Regions from separate parts of the Homo sapiens genome. Here region 1 is reported to be linked to region 2. The links are microRNA targets in miRTarBase. Many come from high-throughput screens and were not tested one by one. Region 2 holds a microRNA gene; the other region holds the end of a gene's coding sequence. Distances are from middle to middle.

Region 1 (7,117 bases), 120 Mb from region 2:
TTGTTTGCATGCTCAGAGTGTGTGTGGGCTGTGGACCAGCAAATAGCCATTGATCACATATTGTGCCAGAAACTGTGATAGAATTTTTTGCCTGTGAGCTCATTTAATCCCTGTAGTTCTGCTGCAGAAAAATGGGATGCCATTTTACAGATGAGGTAACAGACTCAGGGAGGTTAAGTAACTAGCTCAAGGTTATAGGCCTAGCAAGGAGCAGAGCCAAGATTCAAACCTAGATCTGATTGCAAAATTTTGTTCCAACTATACCAGTGGTTCCCCCAAACCATCCCATGAGCTCTTTTAAAAATGCGTCTTTCCTACTGAGATCCTACATCGTTCTGTCTAGGGCTGGTCTGGGAGCCTGTATTTTTAAAGTAGCCCAGAGGTGTGGATTGGAAACCAGTGCCCTTCACCACTCTGGAAGCCTCTCTGGATTTTCCAGATTGTTCATTGAAACTCTGCTCTATCCTAATTAATGCTTATTTACATGATTGTACTAAAGGTTACCACAGGCTTCTAACATGGTTCTCTCAATTGGTACCTTTTTCCTACCACTAACCCTATTCAGAGCCTTCAGTGGCTACCAGAACCATCATATGGTTCTTATGTCCCCGCCTTTACCACGTCCCAAAGCTCCTCCCCTCCAGCGAGGTGTGTCTGGAGCTATGTGGGGGCGGGAGGAAGGGTGAAGTGTTAAGAGACCCAAAGCCCGGAGAGGTGCTGCTAAGCTGGTCTGGGAAGGGCTTTGGCAGGGCACGGGCGGGCAGAAGGCGGGCATCCCAAATCAACAACCTTGCCTAACGCTGCCCCTCTGCTACCTCTTGTCTCCCCTGCAGTGGGCTCCCAGGACAGCTTGCTGGAGATCACCTTCCGCTCCGGAGCCCTGCCCGTGCTCTGTGACCCCACGACCCCTAAGCCAGAGGACCTGCATTCGCCGCCGCTGGGCGCGGGCTTGGCTGACTTTGCCCACCCTGCGGGCAGCCCCTTAGGTAGGCGCGACTGCTTGGTGAAGCTGGAGTGCTTTCGCTTTCTTCCGCCCGAGGACACCCCGCCCCCAGCGCAGGGCGAGGCGCTCCTGGGCGGTCTGGAGCTCATCAAGTTCCGAGAGTCAGGCATCGCCTCGGAGTACGAGTCCAACACGGACGAGAGCGAGGAGCGCGACTCGTGGTCCCAGGAGGAGCTGCCGCGCCTGCTGAATGTCCTGCAGAGGCAGGAACTGGGCGACGGCCTGGATGATGAGATCGCCGTGTAGGTGCCGAGGGCGAGGAGATGGAGGCGGCGGCGTGGCTGGAGGGGCCGTGTCTGGCTGCTGCCCGGGTAGGGGATGCCCAGTGAATGTGCACTGCCGAGGAGAATGCCAGCCAGGGCCCGGGAGAGTGTGAGGTTTCAGGAAAGTATTGAGATTCTGCTTTGGAGGGTAAAGTGGGGAAGAAATCGGATTCCCAGAGGTGAATCAGCTCCTCTCCTACTTGTGACTAGAGGGTGGTGGAGGTAAGGCCTTCCAGAGCCCATGGCTTCAGGAGAGGGTCTCTCTCCAGGACTGCCAGGCTGCTGGAGGACCTGCCCCTACCTGCTGCATCGTCAGGCTCCCACGCTTTGTCCGTGATGCCCCCCTACCCCCTCACTCTCCCCGTCTCCATGGTCCCGACCAGGAAGGGAAGCCATCGGTACCTTCTCAGGTACTTTGTTTCTGGATATCACGATGCTGCGAGTTGCCTAACCCTCCCCCTACCTTTATGAGAGGAATTCCTTCTCCAGGCCCTTGCTGAGATTGTAGAGATTGAGTGCTCTGGACCGCAAAAGCCAGGCTAGTCCTTGTAGGGTGAGCATGGAATTGGAATGTGTCACAGTGGATAAGCTTTTAGAGGAACTGAATCCAAACATTTTCTCCAGCCGGACATTGAATGTTGCTACAAAGGGAGCCTTGAAGCTTTAACATGGTTCAGGCCCTTGGTGTGAGAGCCCAGGGGGAGGACAGCTTGTCTGCTGCTCCAAATCACTTAGATCTGATTCCTGTTTTGAAAGTCCTGCCCTGCCTTCCTCCTGCCTGTAGCCCAGCCCATCTAAATGGAAGCTGGGAATTGCCCCTCACCTCCCCTGTGTCCTGTCCAGCTGAAGCTTTTGCAGCACTTTACCTCTCTGAAAGCCCCAGAGGACCAGAGCCCCCAGCCTTACCTCTCAACCTGTCCCCTCCACTGGGCAGTGGTGGTCAGTTTTTACTGCAAAAAAAAAAAAAGAAAAAAGAGAAAGAAAAAAAAGAATGAATGCAAGCTGATAGCTGAGACTGTGAGACTGTTTTTGTCCACTCTTCTGAATCACTGCCACTTGGGTCAGGGACCACAGCCATTGCCACCCTTGGCCCATCTCTCTGCGTGCGTGCCTTGAGCACACATATAAAAAGTGCCATGTGCAATTGTCTTATCTTTTATGATCTAGGCTTTGCCTAGGGATCACTACTCCTTAACGGGCTGGCTGGGGCAATGAGGAAAAGCTCCTTTGCTCCTGTAAGGCCATAAGTGGCTGTTAACAGATTTTCAAATGCCTGAAGAGATTGCTGAGACCTGCTAGAGTCATATGTTCGGGGAATTAAGTCTTTATCCTAGACAACAAGGTACAGATGCAAACTGCAGTGTTATTGGAGGGTCAATCGGCAAGGATATGATTATCCCAAAATGGAGTTCATCGACCCTAGCTTTCCTTTAGATTATATATAAATAAAAGTGCAGTCCTCTTCTAATGGCCACAGTTGGTTTTCTTGTAGCCCAGAAAGTCCAAATTAAAGGAAATAAATTCAGTTTTATGTTAGCCTTCCTTGGTGCATCAGGGTGTCAGTGGAAATAGGATCAGGTGGTGTGTGTGTGTGTGTTTTGTGTGTGTGTGTACACATGTGTTTATATATACATGTGTGAGGGAAAGTGTGTACATATATGTAGGATTGTAACCAGACGGAAAAGAACGAGGATCTCCAGGGTGTTTGAATCAGCAACAGATTTGTGTTTTCTAACATGCATTTAGTTGGAGAGGCATGGTTCTGTTTGTTTTGTTTTGATCTAATTTGCCATTGGAAATAGGTACAGTTACACAGAGAAGGAAGAACCAGGAAAGTGAGATCCATGAAACTAAATGAGCAGCTGTCAGAATCCAGTGTGGCTGAGCCTACCTAGCTTATGAAATCTAACCCAGGGTTCCCTGAGTCCAAGACCACTTAGATTATTAAGATTTTGAACGTCCAGAGGAGTGAAAAGTCTGTTTTCTGACGTAAGCCGGAGCTGAGGATAAAGCCAGAGGCCAGTGGATTAGGTGTATGGAATGTGGATGGAGAGGGCTTGTGTGGGATGTGGCCAGGGAGTGGGTGAGGAAGGCCGCTTCTAAATGGCCTGTAAAAACTTGAGATTGGATAGACGAAAGGAAATGGAGAAATTAAAGAATTGGAGAAACTAGTTATCTGTGTTGCTGACTTTGGGACCCATCCAAGACTCCTGCCCTTGGGGTGTTCCATGGTGGTTTCTTCCTGCCTGGGCGCCACCCTTTCCCCAGTTCAGGCCCTCCCTGGAGGACTAGTTTGTGTATTGGTATCCTCCCCAGTGGACCCAAACCAGCGCATACTTGGTGTGTGGAGATGGGAGACAAAGGACAGATCTAGGAGCCTTGAAGGATCACCAGCCACCGACCCTCCATCAGGGCCAACTGGGCAGGAAAGGGAACATTGCAGACCTGATTTCCCGACGATGTCACCCTGTCCTCCCTCCTTGCTTCTTGCTCTGCTAACTCAACTCTGCCTTCCTCTTTTTCATTCTTCTACTCTGCCCTATATGGAGGACAAATGGACACCAGGGGTGCTAACCTTATTGGTGCCTGCCCCAGCCTACCCCAGGTGCCAGCAGACTCTCGTGCACAGGAGGCTCCCACAGTTATGGAGCCAGGAAAGAATTTCTCTGCACTGGATGGACTGTATATTGAGATTAAAAATTATATTCCTTATATTCCTGCTTATATCAATGCTCTCTCTGTAAAACCTCTTCCTAGCCTCATTTCTCTCAACTGATCTTGTTTAGGCGTTGTATTCCTTTTATTTACTCTTTGCTTGACTGCTTCCTCCTAACCCTCTACCCACTAGCACTCTACTTCCTAAAGCTGTTGTGTCATTAACTCTGTTGGATCAACTCTCTGGGAAAAGATTCTGTTAATGTAAGTGCACTTACTCCCTGGATGTTGTCACTAGTCTAGTGGCTTTTGCTAAATAAACCTTTCTTATTTCTAGAAGCTTTTCCATTGTCTTTTCTTGCTGCTTCTATTCCACCTGCTCCTTCTCTCCCCCTCACTTCCACCCCACTTCCCAAGCCAAGTGGCATCAGCTCTGTGAGATGGTTCCCAAGGGTATGGGATTGAGGAAAGATTCACAAGTTCCCTGTAGGAGGAGAGGAAGATGGTGGCTTCATTTGCACTTTATATAGATCAGCCCTGCGGGATCAGAGGTATCAGTGGTTCTTAACTAGGCCTGATTTTTCCTCACCAGGGGACATCTGACAATGTCTAGAAATGTTTTTGGTTGTCACAAAGCTACTGGCATGTAGTGAGTGAAGCCAGGGATACTGATCAATATCCTACAATGCACAGGACAGCCCCCCACAACAAAGAATCATCCAGCCCCAAATGTCAGTAGTCCTGAGATTGGGAAACTCGTCTACACCCATTTTTGCCGACTCTGCCAATCCCAGGTTTTTTCAAACTCCAAATATCATTAGAATATGTGGGTAGTAGCAGCCAGTTGGTTTTTTTGGTTTTGGGTTTCAGGGCTTTTTGTTTTTCAGGTGTTTTTAAGGCAGGGTCTCACTCTGTCGCCCAGGCTGGAGTGCATGATCATGGCTCACTGCAGCCCTGACCTCCCTGGGCTCCATGATCCTCCCACTTCAGCCTCCTGAGTAGCAGGACTACAGGTGTGTGCCACCACACCCAGCTAATTTTTCTATTTTTTGTAGAGACGGGTTTCGCCATGTTGTCCGGGCTGGTTTCAAACTCTTGAGCTCAAGCAATTCTCCCACCTTGGCCTCCCAAAGTGCTGGGATTGCAGGCATGAGCCACCACACCTGGCCAGCATCAAGTTCTGAGTGCTTGAAAAATTACTACATCATAGATATTTGCCAATATAACTGTGTAATTGTATAAACAAGATTATTCAGCTCATGCCAGTAATCCCAGCACTTTGGGAGGCCGAGGCAGGTGGATCGCTTGTGCTCAGGAGTTTGAATCAACCTGGGCAACATGGGGAAAGACCGTTACTAAAAAAAAAAAAACATAAAAATTAGCCACGCATGGTGGTGAGTGGCTGTGGTCCAAGCTACTTGGGAGGCTGAGGTGGGAGGATGGCTTCAGCCTGGGAGGCGGAGGTTGCAGTGAGCCGAGATCATGCCACTGCACGCTCCAGCCTTGATGATAGAGCGAGACCCTGTCTCAAGGAAAAGAAAAAAAAAAAGATTATACTATTTCACGGACTTCATGACTAAATGCCTGAAATATGTAGTTGGTAGAAGTCTGAATAGGCCCATTCCAGAAATGTTCATACTGGGGACAAAACTGGCTCCTCCTCATACCTACCTCGGCGGGGATCATGGTATCACTATGACACAGCTCAGCACAGAAGTCCTGATTCATGGGAATGTAGGCTTCCCTGCAAGGAGTACAAATGAAAGGGCAGAGGAGCCTGGTAAAGGAGGGAGTGTTTGAGGAATGAGGAGCTGTGGGATCACACAGAACAGACTTTAGAAAAGCCAGGTCACTTTGGCTGGAACTTTTAGCCATTTTGCAGGCAGAGGATGTGTTAGGCCTGATGGCTTCGTCAGGCCCAGGCTAGAGAGAAAGTTGAAAAGGTTAGATCAACTGGGTTCACATGCTCTCTGTTCTTTTCTGGCTAAGTGAACTGAACTGAGTTTTGTATTCTCATCTCGAAAATGGGGATAGTATAAACCACACAAAGCTACTATGGAAAGTAAATGAGATTGTATTTTAAAAGCACCCAGTAGAGAGTGCCTGGCAGTGACCCAGGGTACAGAACAATTTCCCTTTTAGGGAGCTTCCTTCTGCCTGCACCTGTGCTGCTCAGTACAGTGCTGGGTGCTCTTTCCTGCTCTGCTAAAACTTAGCTCTGTACTGAGAAAATTCCTGGGGTTACATTGATACAACATTAAATGTGGAATGTGAAAAACGCCCTGTCTTTAGGGAGAAGACACTAACCACGAGCACCTGGCAGGCGGGATGGGCACGTGCCATGGCACCTGGGCTCAGTCCCTGGCCTGCTTGTTTTCCTTCTCGTGATATGTTCTATGCCTGTTGTACAGATGCCATAGAGAAGGGAGCATGGGGTTGGCAAAGGACAGAGACAACAGTAGCTCGGAGTGAGGATTAAAAAGATTGCCCAGAGCCACTCATCTGCCCTTTCAGGGCACAGGGTCCTGGGAGTGATGTCAGGGCTGCCTGGAGACCTCTGCACACTGGACTGGATAGGTTGTGACCTTGTCCTGGATCCCAGCCCAGCTGGAGCCTGGCAGTCAATTGGACTTTGGGATGCAGGCTGGGTGGGGTTGGGGACAGAATGGGGTGAGAAGCATGGCTCGAGGGCACAGGGCCGCAGTGGTCTCACAGCACATGATGCGATGGGGATCGAGCCCAGCCTCCCTCCCACTCTGTGGGGAACGACCACAAATGAGGTTTTAGCAGCACACTGATAAGCAGAGCAGCTCTGCTAAGCCACAGATAAGACTCTGGAGGAAAAGCCTTTGGGAGGTGAGGGAGGACCCTCCACACCACCTGCTGGCCAAGCCCTGAGGGAGGCAAAGACCAGGGCGGGGGTTTGTGCCAGGGTCCCTGCAAGGCAGTGCCCACTGCAGTGGAGGGGCTACTGAGTCATCAGGGTGATAAAGCAAGAGGTAAATGAGGCCTGAAAGGATGACCAGCAAGCATTTGGTGCTTTTTAAAAACCACATTACAGTCAAGATAGATGTCTCTGCTGCATCCCTGATGCTTATCCATCTTTCTGGGTCAGATGGACCAGGAGGTTCACTCAGAAATGGAGGCAGAGTCAGGGCTGCCCACTGGACACATTACTTGGTAACAGGAAGCAATA
Region 2 (7,111 bases):
AAAGGTAAAAAATGGTTACATCAGCGAGTGTCTATAATTTGCCTCTCAAGGAACTTTTGTATGGACTATGATCATTCAACTCTGAGTCTGGAGCATGTGGCAGGGTGCCTAACACTAGAATGGGCTCAGTTCTGATTTAAGTAGCCTTGGCTATATGTCATGCCCACACCAGCTCCTCTCCACAGGTGTGCTCCATCCTCTGGTCTCCCCATTACAAGGAGCTCATCTCAGGCCATGGCTTTGCACAGAACCAGCTAGTTATTTGGAAGTACCCAACCATGGCCAAGGTGGCTGAACTCAAAGGTAAGTGGCTAGGTGAAAAGCCGGACATAAAAGGCCACATAATGTATGACTGAAATGTCCAGAATAAGCAAATCCAGAGAAAAAACACATTAATGGTTGCCAGGGGCTGAGAGAGGGTAATGGGAAATGTTGAAAATGTCTTAGAATTAGTTTTAACAGTTGTACAATTTTGTGAATATACTAAAAATCACTAAACTGTACACTTTAAAAGGATGCATTTTATGGTGTGTGAATTATATCTCAGTAACACCATTGAAAAAAAAGGGAGGAGGCCAGGCACGGTGGCTCACGCCTGTAATCCCAGCACTTTGGGAGGCTGAGGCGGGCAGATCATGAGGTCAGGAGATAGAGACAATCCTGGCTAACATGGTGAAGCCCTGTCTCTACTAAAAAACACAAAAAATTAGCCAGGCGTGGTGGCAAGCACCTGTAGTCCCAGCTACTCGGGAGGCTGAGGCAGGAAAATGGCATGAACCCAGGAGGCGGAGCTTGCAGTGAGCCAAGATTGCGCCACTGCACTCCAGCCTGGGTGACAGAGCAAGTCTCAAAAAAAACAAAAAGGTAGGTGGGTGGCCCAGTGCCTCCTTTATGGCTATGGCTGCATCAGCATTCGTATGTACTGTTCTCATTTGCTCCAGGTCACACATCCCGGGTCCTGAGTCTGACCATGAGCCCAGATGGGGCCACAGTGGCATCCGCAGCAGCAGATGAGACCCTGAGGCTATGGCGCTGTTTTGAGTTGGACCCTGCGCGGCGGCGGGAGCGGGAGAAGGCCAGTGCAGCCAAAAGCAGCCTCATCCACCAAGGCATCCGCTGAAGACCAACCCATCACCTCAGTTGTTTTTTATTTTTCTAATAAAGTCATGTCTCCCTTCATGTTTTTTTTTTAAATCTGTTTCAGCTAATGCCTTTCTTCTTTCATGACCTATGTCCCAGCAGCCTTCCTAGGGGCTCTACTCTACTGGGATCAGAGAGCTAGATATGTCCTGTGGGAGCCTGGACCATCCATCCCTCTTGTTTGTGGACAGGGCTAAGCGTGTTGTGTTCCCCCACCTCCTCTGTTCACATACGTATACACACAGCCTCCGTGGTTTCCTCTGTCACTTTTAATTAAGACACAAGTTGAGTAAGCAGCCTCCACAGGCTGTATTCCCAGGCCCCCGCCCACCCTGACCTTTGGCCCAGAAGCTACTGCTTCAGTGTGTGGGGTGGAGGAGTGAGACTGGGTCCACAGTGACATTATTGCTGACCTCTTCTGTGTGAGGAAAAAGGCCACGAGACCCTTTGTGGGGCCAGCCCTGAGTGCTCCTCTCCCAAGTTTTAAGGCAGGGAGGGGGAAATAACTGTACAGCCCTTTTAGCCCCCAGCTCTGGAGTGGCAGACAGCAATGAGGCCACATCCCTGGAGCTGCCCGGGGGAAGTGGGTGAGGAACCAAAGCCGTGGTCCCTGTAGAGCAGCTGTGGGGAGGGGAGGGCCAGTCCCCTGCTCAGTCCTGACCACATAAGCCTTGGTCACAGGTGTAGGTGGAGAGGGCACTGACGGACACTGCCCTAAGGTGCAGTCCTGAGGCACTTAGGTGGGCGCCTATCTAGGCCATGCTTCTCAGTTGGCCTTGACCTTGGCAATACCTGGAGCTCCATTTTGCTGAAGTGCACGGGGCAGCCGCTTGCCCTTGGTATAAGAGTGATACCAGAAGTTGGAGAACAGCATGAAGAAGATGGTGCCATACATCCAGATGAGGTGAATAATGACTGGGTACTGGTAGTTACAGCTGGACATAAAGTAGTACTGGGAGATGTGCAGTGAGACCAGGACAAACTGGATCTAGGATAGAGAAAGACCAGGGTCAGAGGGAATAGTGAGAGGACTAGAGGGGAAGAGGGGGTAGAGAAAGAGACAAACGTTGAGTAGGGAGAGATGGGGTCAAAGGTGAGACAGACTGGATAAAGGCAGGATCCAGGCTAGGAATGTGGGGGGATGGTTATAGGTAAGTCAGGCCAAGCCCCTCACCAGCTGAATGGCTGTCATGTGCTTTTTCCACCAAAGGTAGGGTTGTGCCACAGGGCCAAAGGCAGATAATCCGTAGTACAGGTACATTATGACATGCACGGAAGAGTTTATCATGGCATGGAAAGAGCCCATTCCTCCTGTGAGTGGACAATAAGACAGGGTCAGCAGAGTCCAGCCTCTGGTGCCCACCCTTTCCCATAGTGGCCTTCACCACTCACCCGGGGCAATCTTTACCCCCCACCACCAGCTCCAGGGAAGCACAGAGTGATGGAAGACATGTAGGAAGGTCACCTGCCCGTCTTTCTTTCGGAGAATAAAGATCACCTGAGAGAAGAGTGAGGGAAGGGGATTCAGAACCTGGGCTTCTCCACCTCATTCTCCCCTCAAGTTCTCACATCTCATATAACTACTCACTGTGTCCATCAGCTCAATGAACTTGGAGAAGAGGAAGAGCCAGGCCACCCGAACCATCTGCAAGAAGTTGGGATAGCCTTAGGACCTCATACACTATTCTAAGAGCCTCCCTAAACTGGGCCTTGAGCACAGGCCCCAAACTGGTCATATCTACCAGGTTGCTTATGACCTAGCCCCAGCCCCTACTTACCCTAAGTGCCTCAGGGCTGTTGGAATAGTCCACAGGGTCACAGCGCCAGGTATAGGTGCTCAGCCAGCCCGACATCAGGAACTGGGAAGGGATGTGGATTAGACCACCAGAGTTCTCCCTTCCCAGCCATCCCTCCCCTTCGCTAGCTGAGGACATGGATCTGAACCTCTCTGGAAAGGAGAAATGCCATGCTCTGGCTCTATGGCCTGCTCCTTATCCTGCTGACAGAAATTAAAGCCCGGCATCCCAGGGGCCCACCTCATAGACAATGTAGAGGGAGAGTGCCACCAGTGAGAAGTTGTAGACAATCATGAAGCCACGGAGCTGGAAGGGCTTCCGATTAGCCATGATGCGAGGCCCAAGTGAGAGAACGAAGTACACGTAGGTCAGGAGAATGGAGGTCATTAGCAAGGGGGACCCCATCAGAGGGTAGCCCTGGATCCGGGGATCTATGAATAAGGGTCAAAGGAATCAGGAAGAGTCACAGGGTTCGAAGGGTCTTCATTTGAAGGGTCTACAGACATGAGGTCAGGTCACAGGATCAAGGGTTTCATAGGAACTCTCCATTAGAAGACAGCCGTAGATCCAGGGATCCCGGGAAAGAAGGAAGGAAAGGGCTGGTGGATAGCGTCTTACCTGCGTGCTTCATCACCTCTTGGTACAAGTTCACAACAGCCTCCATCCTGGCTAAGGACTCTGGGGAGGTACAGAGGGCGGATGTCAGACAGATCCCACTGCACACCCCCATCCCACAGAGATAAGACACAGAACCAGACAAGACACCTGCAATGCCTCATTGCAGAAAGGACAGAACAGTGAAAGGAAGGAATTACTGGGAACTAGGGGGAGGAGGCAGTTTGGTTGAGGCATCTGCTCCCCACACATCCTGCTTGCCTGGGAAGAGCTGTTCCACCCTTCCTCTCCACACCTTACTCTCCTCTCCTCTCCACAGTTTTACTTCCTGGCCTCCCTTCCCCTCTTCCTCCACAAGATAACTCTCAATTCCAGGTCTCTTACTGGAGAATCTTACCTTCTCACCAACAGGGAGCTCTTGAACTCCGTCTCCCTTCCTCACCCGAGTCCCTCACCTCCCCAGCTCTGGGTCTTTCTTCTCTCCAGGGATTCTCCCCTTCAATCTCTCCTCTCCTGCCCTCTCCTCTTCCCATCCCTCTGGACCCTTCCTGAACTCTCTTCTCCCCAGGGTCCCTCCTGTCCCTGCCAGGACTCTCACCTCTCTGGGCCCTTCTGTCCCTCCAGAACCTTATCCTCGGATTCCTCCTTGCCTGTGCTGGGACACTTATGTCCCTACGATTCTCCTCTGCCTTTCCTGGGACTCTCACCTCCAGCCTCTCCTCTCCAGCGCTCTCCTCTCTCCTCTCGCAGAGCCCTTCCTCTCCTGGAGCCTGGCTCTTTGAGACTCCTGCCCCGGCGGCTCCACCTGTCTGACTAGATCTGGCAGCAGCCCCGCCCTCTGCCCGCCCCTGCTGTACTGTGCAGGGGGTGGAGGGTGGGTCCGGGCCACAGGTCAGTGCCTGGGGGAGCAGGACCCACCAGGATTGGGAAAGCCAAGTAAAGCCCCAGACTCGCCACCCACCCACCCACGTGGGACCAGCCTGATGAGCTAAGGTCCTAGATTCTGAGCCAGAAACCTCCTCTGACCCCAGCCCCAGCCCCAGCCCTGGCCCAAAGCACTGCTGAAAATCCACACCCAGCATCCTCTCCTAAGCCGGCCATAACTGCTCAGTTTGTCCTACTTCAGAATGGGTACAATCACTCTTCCCTTCCTGGGAAGGGCAGGGAAGCCAGTGGCATGTGAAGGGGTTGGGGAGTGGGGGAGGTCGCAGGAATCTTCCCCTCCCTCAGGGAGGGGCCCCGTTGGGCTAGGCCCCCTCCCCCTCAGGGCCTGAAGGAATGTCGGGGGAAGGCTCCCAGGGACACAAAAGCCTCTGGCCAGACCCAGGAGAGCATGGTACTGACAGTCCCTGAGGGACAAGGCATTCTTGGAACAGAGCAGGGCCCAGGGCAGCAGGTGCCCCAGACTCCCTGCTTCCAGAGAAGCACCTCTGCAGATGCCAAGTGAAGAGGCGCACCTCTGACACCTCCCTGCCCCGCACACCCCTCACCTCCAGGAGGCCCGGCTTCTTTAGGCCCACCGTGGTCAGGCCCCAAGCCTGCGGTCCACACCCACCTCTCACCTAGCTCTCCACCCCCAACAGCGAAGGTGCCACGCCGAGGGCTGGCACACACGTCTCCTGCCTGACACACCACGCAACACCTCCGTGGGCTGACACGCATGGCTCCCGGCCCTCACGCAGCTCGGCCACCGCCCAGGCACACGCACGGGCTCACCCGCGGGGCCACTCACACACGTGTGCGCGCTGCCTGGCCACGCTCGGATCCCCTCCTTACTTGCTCCCCCACCATCGGGCTTGCTGGCCGCCCATCGCCGGCAGGGCCCAGGCCGGGGCGAGGGCGCCAACACAGGTTCCTCCCTGACACATGGGAGCCAGCCAGCCTGTTATCTCTCAACCACCAGCCCCCAATATCAACCCACACACCCGGCAGGCCAGGAGGGACCAAGGCTCCTGGGAGGACCTCTCCCCAAGCTGCAGGAAAATCTGGGTGTGTCTCTCGTCGGGGAACTCAGCCCGTCCCTTCCTTCCTTTAAGATGGATGGAAGGGAAAAGGTGCCTGGCAAAGTTAGGGTAGCGGGGGGAGGGAGGGGAGAGGAGGAGGGAGAGAGGTAAATGCAGGGGTGGTGGAGGAAGGCCCGGGTGTAGGCAAATGGGGGCCAGAGACGGGGGTGTGGGGGAGGGAGGGTGCTGGCGAGGCCCGGCCCCAGGGAGCTGGGACCTCCCACCCACTGGCCCCGGGAACACCCTCGCCCACAGCCTGGGCAGGGCAGGGCAGGGCTGGGCCGGGCTGGGCCGGGCTGGCCAGGCAGGGGGCGCCGGCACGTGGAGAGTCCGTGGAAGGTCCAGACTCACCCGTAGGGGCCAGGCGGGCAACGGCGGAGCGCTCGGAGGGAGCAGGGCCAGAGAGAAGTCCCCGGGGCCAGCCTGCCTGCCTGCCACTTCCTCATCTGCTGGGCCGACTTTCTGTCACCAGAGGGGGAGGGGCGGGCCGCGCGGGGGGCGCCCGCTGATTGGGCGGCCGGCAGGGCCGGAGGCCGGCAGCGCAGGCTCGGCCGGGGCGGGGGCAGGGGCGTGCCGCCGGGTCCCAGCAGGAAGCGCCGCGGCCCGGGCTTCCCACCCCTTCCCTCGCCGCCCGGGCCCGCCCTGGCCAGTTGCAGCGGCCTGGCCACCTCAGGAGCACGCTGTCTCTTCCCGACGTGCAGCCCGGGGCCCGGCCCTGTCCCCGGGTGACTGCTCCCCGGCAGGACTGCACATCTGTGGCGGCAGGCCCAGCTCAGGGCTCGGGGGAGGTTCGGCCTTGCCTTCAAAGAGCTCCCTCTCCTGCAGGGCGAGCGCAGAGCGGCGGGCGAGACCACACTGCGTGTGCTGAGGGCGCACTGGTCTTAGCGGGAGGGAAGCCTCACGAGCCTGTACACTTGGAGGAGCCCTAAGCGTTAGGATCTGCTGCGAGGGCTGCCTGGAACGGAGGTGAGAGGATACAAGTGGCCCGGGGCAAGCATAGTGAATCACTGGCTAATCTGGCCTTCGAGGTAGTGAAAGGAAAAAAGGGAAATGAAGCTGACTGTGGCTGAATGTAGTAGGTCTTGAAGGCCAAATGGGGCGATCTGATTTTTATTCTAGAAGCAGAGGAGAAACTAAAGATTTTTTTAGGAGACTATATTCAAGCTTGTATCATTAGTTCATCAGACGTTTATGGACCACCCACCGTCCGTGCACTCACGGGGCTTGCAGTCTATCTGGCTGAATCACTTTGGCAGCCAGTGTGAGGAGGGCACAGAAAGGAGACCAGGTGAGAAAGCCAGCCTGACCAAAGAAGATGTGGCAACTGATGGGATTGGAGGAGGCGGACAATGTCCTCCAGACAGCTGGACTGGCTCTCTATATATTTATTTATCTCTTCTACACCTCCAGCCCCCACCTCCACACTCACTAACTGGACTCAACTAGTGGGGGCAAAGGACAGACTAGATTTTAGTGAAATGGAATTTCTACCTCCAGCGGCCCCTGGAACAGTAGCACACAACGATCTAACAACTGCTTGTATGATTGGATGGTGTA

The links. The annotated mature microRNA hsa-miR-6734-5p reads UUGAGGGGAGAAUGAGGUGGAGA and lies in region 2 at 2,679-2,701, opposite strand. An mRNA with a match to its seed (bases 2 to 7 or 8) in the 3' UTR can be bound and repressed. Matches are read on the target gene's strand: a 7mer-m8 pairs with bases 2 to 8, a 7mer-A1 pairs with bases 2 to 7 and ends in A, and an 8mer does both.
Region 1: the mRNA of NOS1AP is a reported target of hsa-miR-6734-5p. Seed matches in the 3' UTR shown: 7mer-m8 at 1,615-1,621 and 7mer-m8 at 2,082-2,088.

Annotation. Positions count from the first base shown.
Region 1 is chr1:162,366,219-162,373,335 of GRCh38, forward strand. It overlaps NOS1AP (nitric oxide synthase 1 adaptor protein), which reads left to right. Exons shown (of 10, transcript NM_014697.3): 10 at 834-4,257. The coding sequence ends at 1,249. SPATA46 (spermatogenesis associated 46) reads right to left here. Exons shown (of 3, transcript NM_182581.4): 3 at 6,985-7,117. Among named protein-coding and RNA genes, the nearest start is that of SPATA46, 7.1 kb to the right of the region's middle. RefSeq lists an enhancer at 985-1,484.
Region 2 is chr1:43,362,010-43,369,120 of GRCh38, forward strand. MIR6734 (microRNA 6734) reads right to left here and starts at 2,706; the gene lies at 2,639-2,706. CDC20 (cell division cycle 20) reads left to right here. Exons shown (of 11, transcript NM_001255.3): 10 at 186-303; 11 at 942-1,194. The coding sequence ends at 1,120. ELOVL1 (ELOVL fatty acid elongase 1) reads right to left here and starts at 6,002. Exons shown (of 8, transcript NM_022821.4): 1 at 5,906-6,002; 2 at 3,555-3,614; 3 at 3,177-3,367; 4 at 2,919-2,999; 5 at 2,729-2,785; 6 at 2,533-2,638; 7 at 2,315-2,451; 8 at 1,392-2,128. The coding sequence starts at 3,600. The coding sequence ends at 1,907. LOC112268225 (a long non-coding RNA gene) reads left to right here and starts at 6,203. Exons shown (of 2, transcript XR_007066049.1): 1 at 6,203-7,111. RefSeq lists silencers at 4,302-4,391, 5,652-6,331 and enhancers at 4,709-5,443, 5,444-6,178, 6,772-6,851.